Homo sapiens: one gene and its partner. The protein of the gene in region 1 purifies or fractionates together with the protein of each later gene. This does not show direct contact. Each region holds a gene or a part of one and is shown in the gene's direction. Other genes may lie near its edges.

Evidence for each region.
Region 2: the proteins of ITIH4 (region 1) and SERPING1 purify together in Homo sapiens (affinity purification with mass spectrometry, with the first as the bait; one large-scale study listed by BioGRID). This does not show direct contact.

The regions. Positions count from the first base shown.
Region 1 is NC_000003.12:52,813,450-52,817,264, reverse strand, and holds part of ITIH4 (inter-alpha-trypsin inhibitor heavy chain H4 isoform 1 precursor), read left to right. Parts: intron 1-206; coding exon 207-381; intron 382-2,901; coding exon 2,902-3,056; intron 3,057-3,193; coding exon 3,194-3,290; intron 3,291-3,774; coding exon 3,775-3,815. UniProt on the Homo sapiens protein: Type II acute-phase protein (APP) involved in inflammatory responses to trauma. May also play a role in liver development or regeneration.
Region 2 is NC_000011.10:57,604,100-57,607,914, forward strand, and holds part of SERPING1 (plasma protease C1 inhibitor precursor), read left to right. Parts: intron 1-1,910; coding exon 1,911-2,114; intron 2,115-2,308; coding exon 2,309-2,448; intron 2,449-3,815. UniProt on the Homo sapiens protein: Serine protease inhibitor, which acrs as a regulator of the classical complement pathway. Forms a proteolytically inactive stoichiometric complex with the C1r or C1s proteases. May also regulate blood coagulation, fibrinolysis and the generation of kinins.

The DNA.
Region 1 (3,815 bases):
AAAGCCTTAGACACCAAGGGACAAGTGGAGAGATTGTGGGAGCCAGCCCCCAGTGTGAAGGAGTGCTGAGAAAGGGGCACCCCTCCTGATGAGGGAGGGAGCTGCTGCAGAACTCCAGGGGGTGTGATCAGGGGGGACTCCCCATGCAGGTCGGTGTCAGACCTGGCTGGGGCCCAGCTATGACCTCTCTGGTCTGGTCCTCCCAGGGGTTGAGGTGACTGGCCAGTATGAGAGGGAGAAGGCTGGGTTCTCATGGATCGAAGTGACCTTCAAGAACCCCCTGGTATGGGTTCACGCATCCCCTGAACACGTGGTGGTGACTCGGAACCGAAGAAGCTCTGCGTACAAGTGGAAGGAGACGCTATTCTCAGTGATGCCCGGGTAAGGCCCAGGCTGGAGCCCGGGGCAGGGGTTGACCTTTCAGGCTACAGTGGCTGATGATGGTACCAGCAGGTGGCCTGAGGCCATGGACCTGAGAATGGAGCAGCTACACTCACAGGAGGGGCAAAGAGACAAGAGCCCTGCCATATACCCCTGCAGCTCCGGAGGGCACTGAGGAGTTGTCCCAGGGACCTAACCCAGGTCACTATCCCATGCAGGAGACAGTGTGGTTTGGAGCTAGCTCTGCTGCTAATCCTTGTGACCCTGGGCAGGCAGCTAAGTCCCTCTGAGCCTCAGTTTCTTCACCAATAACCAGTACTAATCATCCTGGCCCAGAGTCAGAAGGCTGGGGGGAGAACCCAATGAGAGAGTGTAGTTGGGAGCACTTTGCCGTCAGATGATACAGTGCCCCCCAAGCACCCCACAGGACAGCGCTGCCTACATAGTGACGTGATGTTCTGATGACAATAGTGAGAAGCTGGAGAGCACTGTTGACAGCATGTTACCAGCATTCTCTTTAGCGTATCCTTGGAGCTTTGCTAAGGAGACACAAGTCAGTGGCCTCAAATACTGAGCAGCTGGTGAATAATGGAGGCAGAAGGCCACCTCTTTTGGGTGAGGGAGCTCACTGCTTCACAGTGGCCTTCCAGGGACAGTCTTCCAGCTTTGCAGATCACGAGGGGCGTCCAGGAAGGGCTGAGGCCCTCGTCCTCTGTGGGCAGTGACCTCCAAGCCCCCACCCTGTGCCACAGCTCACCCTTTTCCAAGTATGGAGAGCCTTGTCCAGCCCTGTCTCACCAAGCCCTCTGCGGGAACTCCCTTGCACTTGACAGATGAGTGCACACCCAGCTTATCCAAGGGCTCACCCAAAAACCTTCCCAATTTCATAAAAGATCTACGCCCGGTGTGGTGGCTCACGCCTGTAATCCCAGCACTTTGGTAGGCCAAGGTGGGTGGATTGCCTGAGCTCAGGAGTTTGAGACTAGCCTGGCCAACATAGTGAAACCCCGTCTCTACTAAAAATACAAAAACTAGCTAGGTATGGTGGCGGGCACCTGTAATCCCAGCTACTCAGGAGGCTGAGAATTGCTTGAAGCTGGGAGATGGAGGTTGCAGTGAGCTGAGTTAACACCACTGCGCTCCAGCCTGGGCAACAGAGTGAGACCCTATCTCCGAAAAAAGGAAAAAAAAAAAAGATCTAAAATTCCTTGCTATCTGGTAGATTCACCAAAATCAATAGCATTTTTATGCCTAGAAAATGAAATAGAAGTAAAATCCTATTAATTGTAGGGAGAGAAAGTCCAAATAGTTTCATGAGCTACAGAAGACATAAAGAAAAATAGGTTGGGCACGGTGGCTCATGCCTGTAATCCCAGCACTTTGGGAGGCCAGCGCAGGTGGATCACCTAAGGTCAGGAATTGGAGACCAGCCTGGCCAACATGGTGAAACCCCGTCTCTACTAAAAATACAAAAATTAGCTGGGTGTGGTGGCACGCCTGTAATCCCAGCTACTCGGGAGGCTGAGGTAGGAGAACCGCTTGAACCCAGGAGGTGGAGGTTGCAGTGAGCTGAGATTGCACCACTGCACTTCAGCCTGGGCGACAGAGCGAGACTCCGTCTCAAAAAAAAAAAAAAAGAAAAAAGAAAAAAACCCACATATTTTAGATTGAATTGAAGCAATAGAACAGTGTATGTTTAGGGAAAATTTGTTTCAAATAACCTCTGAGTAACAGCAGGGTCTTATTCAACATGCTCAAAGGAACCTAACATTCATGAGAACACCAGAAAGGCAAGAATTTCAAGGGTTATTTTAACTAAAAATCTGAGGAGACAGAATGAGAAGAGGCCTATCCTTTAGACATTAAACACATGATTAAACACAAGTCATCCAAAGAGAGTGCACCAGCTGTAGAACAAAAGGGACAGAGTGGATGCATCAGAGAAACTCCTTCAATCATATAAAATTAATTTATGACAAACTGAATTTAAGAAAACCAGAGGCCGGGTGCGGTGGCTCACGCCTGTAATCCCAGCACCTTGGGAGGCTGAGGCAGGCAGATTGCTTCAGCTCAGGAGTTTGAGACCAGCCTGGGCAACATGGTGAAACCCTGTCTCTCTTAAAAATAAAATTAGCTGGACATGGTGGCATGTACCTGCAGTACCAGCTACTTGGGAGGTAGAGGTGGGAGAATCACTTGAGCCGAGGAGGCACAGGTTGCAACGAGCTGAGATCACACCACTGCACTGCAGCCTGGGGGACAGAGTGAGACCCTGTCCCTGCCCCACCAAAAAAGAGAAAGAAAAAAAAGTGATGGGGAAACTAGACATCATTAAGTTAACTTTGGTCCTATTTTACCAATGAGGAAACTGAAATCAGAAGATTTAAGGGCCTTCCCACCCAAGGCCACTCCGTGACTTCCTGGACAAGAGGGGAAGCCCAGCCCACTCCCCACCCTGACTACTGAGGTTCTGTGCACACGTCTCTACCTTCCTGCTCAAGACACTGGGTCTTTCCACAGCCTGAAGATGACCATGGACAAGACGGGTCTCCTGCTGCTCAGTGACCCAGACAAAGTGACCATCGGCCTGTTGTTCTGGGATGGCCGTGGGGAGGGGCTCCGGCTCCTTCTGCGTGACACTGACCGCTTCTCCAGCCACGTTGGAGGGACCCTTGGTACTGAGCCCATTACCGGGGCCCAGGCCTTCCTCAGAAACCAGCTGTGCTTGGGAACAGGCAGCGCCCCTCCCCTGCGTGTGTCTCCCAGGCTTCCTCTGTCTCTGACCCTTACTGATCCACCCTTTGTATCTCAGGCCAGTTTTACCAGGAGGTGCTCTGGGGATCTCCAGCAGCATCAGATGACGGCAGACGCACGCTGAGGGTTCAGGGCAATGACCACTCTGCCACCAGGTGACTTGGCACAAGCAGACCGCTGAGCCCAGCTGGGGTGGGGTGGGGACTGGCAGGCCAGGAGCCAGGCTCTCCAGGGCCCCACTCCTGTCCTTGCCCAGGAACTAGACACAGTCCGGTGGAAGGTTGATGCTGTAGAAGTGTCTAAGCCAGCTTTCAGTGACCCCACAAAAGATGGATGGCCATCTCAGACCCACAGAAAACACATGGGCCCTGAGATCCCTGGGGTTGGTTGGGGACAGTCGGAACCTCTCCCTGTCCACACCCTGAACTCCCAGAGCCTAAACCCTGGAGACCTCACGTACTGGCTTCTCTAGGGTAATGCTCTGGGTGACTGGGCCTTGTTGGCCTATGCTGGAGGGAATTCTAAAGGGACGCCAGGACTCCCTGCCCTCCATGTTCCTGTCCCCAGCTGTCTCCCTCTTTTCGCACCACACCTGAGATTTGCTGACCACCTGCCTATCTGTCTGTCTTTCCATTTCAGAGAGCGCAGGCTGGATTACCAGGAGGGGCCCCCGGGAGTGG
Region 2 (3,815 bases), on another chromosome or scaffold:
CCAGCCTGGGTGACAGACCGAGACTCTGTCTCAAAAAAAAAAAAAAAAAGAAGAATACCCATATGCATTCATTAATATATAGGGCTAGAGGGCTAGAGAGCTATAGACATAAAATAGACAAAAAATTTTTTTGCTCATTTTTGGGTCAAAGGAGTCTTGGGACTCTAATTCTTTTAATTTTTGTGTTATGTGAATTTGTTATCATTTACATGTATTATGTTATTAAGTAGGTAATAATGATAATACTAATAATAAACTTACAAAACGATCCAATGTAGTTGTTTTCAGACTTTGTTCCTCGGAGCCCTAGGACTTTGCAAAGCTGTTTCTGGAGTCATGGTGGGAGTGGGGTGTGGGGAGCCTGAGCAGTGGGGAAGGGTTCACCACTTCCTGTGAGAGGGAAACGGACCAGCTGGGCTCTGAGCTCCCCACCCAGCCTCAGCCAGGGTCCATTTTATATTGTGGGCTTCAGACATGCCTTTGTTTGAAAGCAGTTCTGCTGCTTTAAAATGTTTGATAACCATTGAACTAATCTACCCACCTCCCTTTTTAAAAAAAAAAGGAAAACTTTTTTTTAAGCTGTTTTTTTTGTTTTTTGTTTTTTTTTAAACTGTAAAAACAATACTTAGGTCTGGCTCAGTGTGCCTGTAATTCCAACACTGAGAGGCTGAGGTAGGAGGATTGCTTGAGGCTAGAATTTCGAGACTAGCCTCTGGGCAACATAGACAGACCTCATCTCTACAAAAAATTTTAAAAATTATCCGGGTGTGGTACGTGTCTGTAGTTCCAGCTATGAAGGACTGAGACGGGAGGATTGCTTGAGCCAAGGAATTCGAAGTTAGAGTGAGCTATGTTTATGCCTCTGTACTCTAGGTTGGGTAACAGAGTAGGACCCTGTCTCTAAAAAAAAAAAAATTTAATTTAAATTTTAAAAACTCACCTATCACCCCATCATCTGAAAAACACCCTCTTTCAGATGTGGGAAAAACATGGCTCAGAGGTGTTCAAGAAATGTTGCATTTATTTATTACTTACAAAGCTGTAAGTCAGCTTTATCCGCTGTCTTGCTAGGTTGGTGAAAAATACGTAACAGCATTCAATATTAGGGCTTCTATCCCCATCTAGCTGCACACTGGAGCTGTGCCAAGCAAGGTTCTTGGTCTTATGTTGTACTTAGGCATCAGCAAAGCCTGGGAAAATATCTTTTTTTTTTTTTTGAGACAGAATCTCGCTCTGTCGCCCAGGCTGGAATGCAGTGGCACCATCTCAGCTCACTGCAACCTCCGTCTCCCAGATTCAAGTGATTCTCCTGCCTCAGCCTCCCGAATAGCTGGGATTACAGGCTGGTCTTGAACTCCTGGCCTCCAGTGATCCACCCACCTTGGCCTCCCAAAGTGCTGCGATTACAGGTGTGAGCCACCATGCCCAGCTGGGGAAAATATCTTTAATCTACTTAGTCCTAGAAAAATTATCTTTCAAGTGCTTTTTTTTTTTTTTTTTCAGTGGACTGAAGGCTTTTGCAGAGCAAAAGCCAGGAAGTTTTGTCACAAACTTCCACCAAGGCCAGGAAGCAGAGTCTATTCCGTGCCAAAATTAAGGGAAGAAAAGAGGGAAAATCTAGGCAAATGGAATTTAATATCTCAAAAAGATTATCTTGCCGAGCCATAGTCACATAGCAAGCTGAGGCAGCGGAGGCTTGGGGCTACTTCTCTTGTTCTTGGTTCTGGGTTTACCTTCTTTGGGCCTTATTTGCCACATCTGTAAGAGGAGTGGGCTGGACCGCGCTCCACCATGCCGTATTCACTAAGTGAGCAGATAGAACCATAGAAAGCATGCTCACTCTCAAATCGTGCTCATGGAAAGAACGACGTGTTCAGGACTCATGCCTCCCTTTCTCAACATACCCCCAGACCTGGCCATAAGGGACACCTTTGTGAATGCCTCTCGGACCCTGTACAGCAGCAGCCCCAGAGTCCTAAGCAACAACAGTGACGCCAACTTGGAGCTCATCAACACCTGGGTGGCCAAGAACACCAACAACAAGATCAGCCGGCTGCTAGACAGTCTGCCCTCCGATACCCGCCTTGTCCTCCTCAATGCTATCTACCTGAGTGGTAAGGGTGCCCTTAGCCAGTTAGTCTTCCCATTCTGGGTCCTTCTTCCCCTCCTGGCTTCAAAGCCCACTTAACCCCAAGTTCTACAATCGGATCTCAATGTCCCTGCACTACTCTTTGCTAACAAGGCTTTTAGCTCCTCTTCATCCTTTTCCTACCTGCATTAGAGCAACCCTCCCACCTCTTCCCTCTAGCCAAGTGGAAGACAACATTTGATCCCAAGAAAACCAGAATGGAACCCTTTCACTTCAAAAACTCAGTTATAAAAGTGCCCATGATGAATAGCAAGAAGTACCCTGTGGCCCATTTCATTGACCAAACTTTGAAAGCCAAGGTAAGTTCTTAACCTTTCCTTCTCCTGTTTGAAACCTACTTGAGTCTCCTGACTTTTTTTCTGCTGTAGTCCCATCATTTTGGGGTACATGCTTACAAATTCATCACTTCTACTCCTTCCATCTGTATTTCCACCCTATCTTTTCTCCTTCTCCTTTCTCTAGCCTTGGCCAAGGCAGACATTGTATATTTTAGGCTGGAAACAGGATTCTCAAGTTTCTTCATGCATCTCTACTATATTGAATGGCAAAATGTGAGTCGTGTTCCTATTCTACACATCTGTTTCTTTTTCCAGTCAACTCATCAGAAGACTCTGGTGGCTTAGCAAGTCCTGTGTGTATGTGGGTACCTGTGTACAGCATACATATACATGTGTAGACGTGTATAAGTATATCCTTGTATATGCATATATGTGGTAAGTGCATGTGTGCACATGAGTTAAATGGCTTAAGTGCATTAGCAGAAATTGAACAATTTAGTTTGATGAGTAGGGAGGGAGAGAAGACAGAATATGGAGCCCAGAGGATCCCAACTGGCAAGCTATCTCATCCCCAGTTACCAGATATTTCCACCTTTTTAGGATGGCAAAACACAGACCTATGAGACAGAAAACAGTAAGAGACAATGTCTCAATACCTGGCTGAGAAACAAAGGCTCTGTTCTTGGAACATGCTAGGCTTGGTTCCACATTGGGAGCTTTCCTTAGCTTTTGTTTCTGCCTGTATCCCTCTTCACTCAGATCCTCACATAGCTTGTTCCTTCTTGTCATTTGGGTGTCAGCTCAGAGGTCACCTTGGTGGAGAAGTCTTCTCCCCATTAAAGCAGCCTCCTCCTCACCCTGTAATATCACTCCTGTTTTATTATATTCATTACACTCATCACCATCTGAAATTATGTCATTTATTTGCTTATTTGCCTAGGACATTGTCTGTCTCCCTAAGATACTGTCTCTCTACTTGAATACAGGAACCTGTCTTGTTTCCTTCTGTATCTGTAGTGCCTAGAACAATGCCTCCTATCATAGGTGCTCATTCAGTGTTTGCTGAATAAATGAATGAATGAAATAGAGGGTGCCAAAGAGAGCTACTCAGTAAAAGTGGCTGGAAGACTTCATAGAGGAGGGTTTTTTTCGAGACAGGGTCTCACTCTGTCACTCAAGCTGCAGTGCATTGACATGATCTCAGCTCACTGCAATCTCTGCCTCCCGAGTTCAAGCAGTTCTCCTGCCTCAGCCTCCCAAGTAGCTGGGACTACAGGAGCCCGCCACCACACCTGGCTAATTTTTGTATTTTTAGTAGAGACGGGGTTTCACCATGTTAGCCAAGCTGGTCTCGAACTCCTGACCTCAAGTGATCCACACCCTCAGCC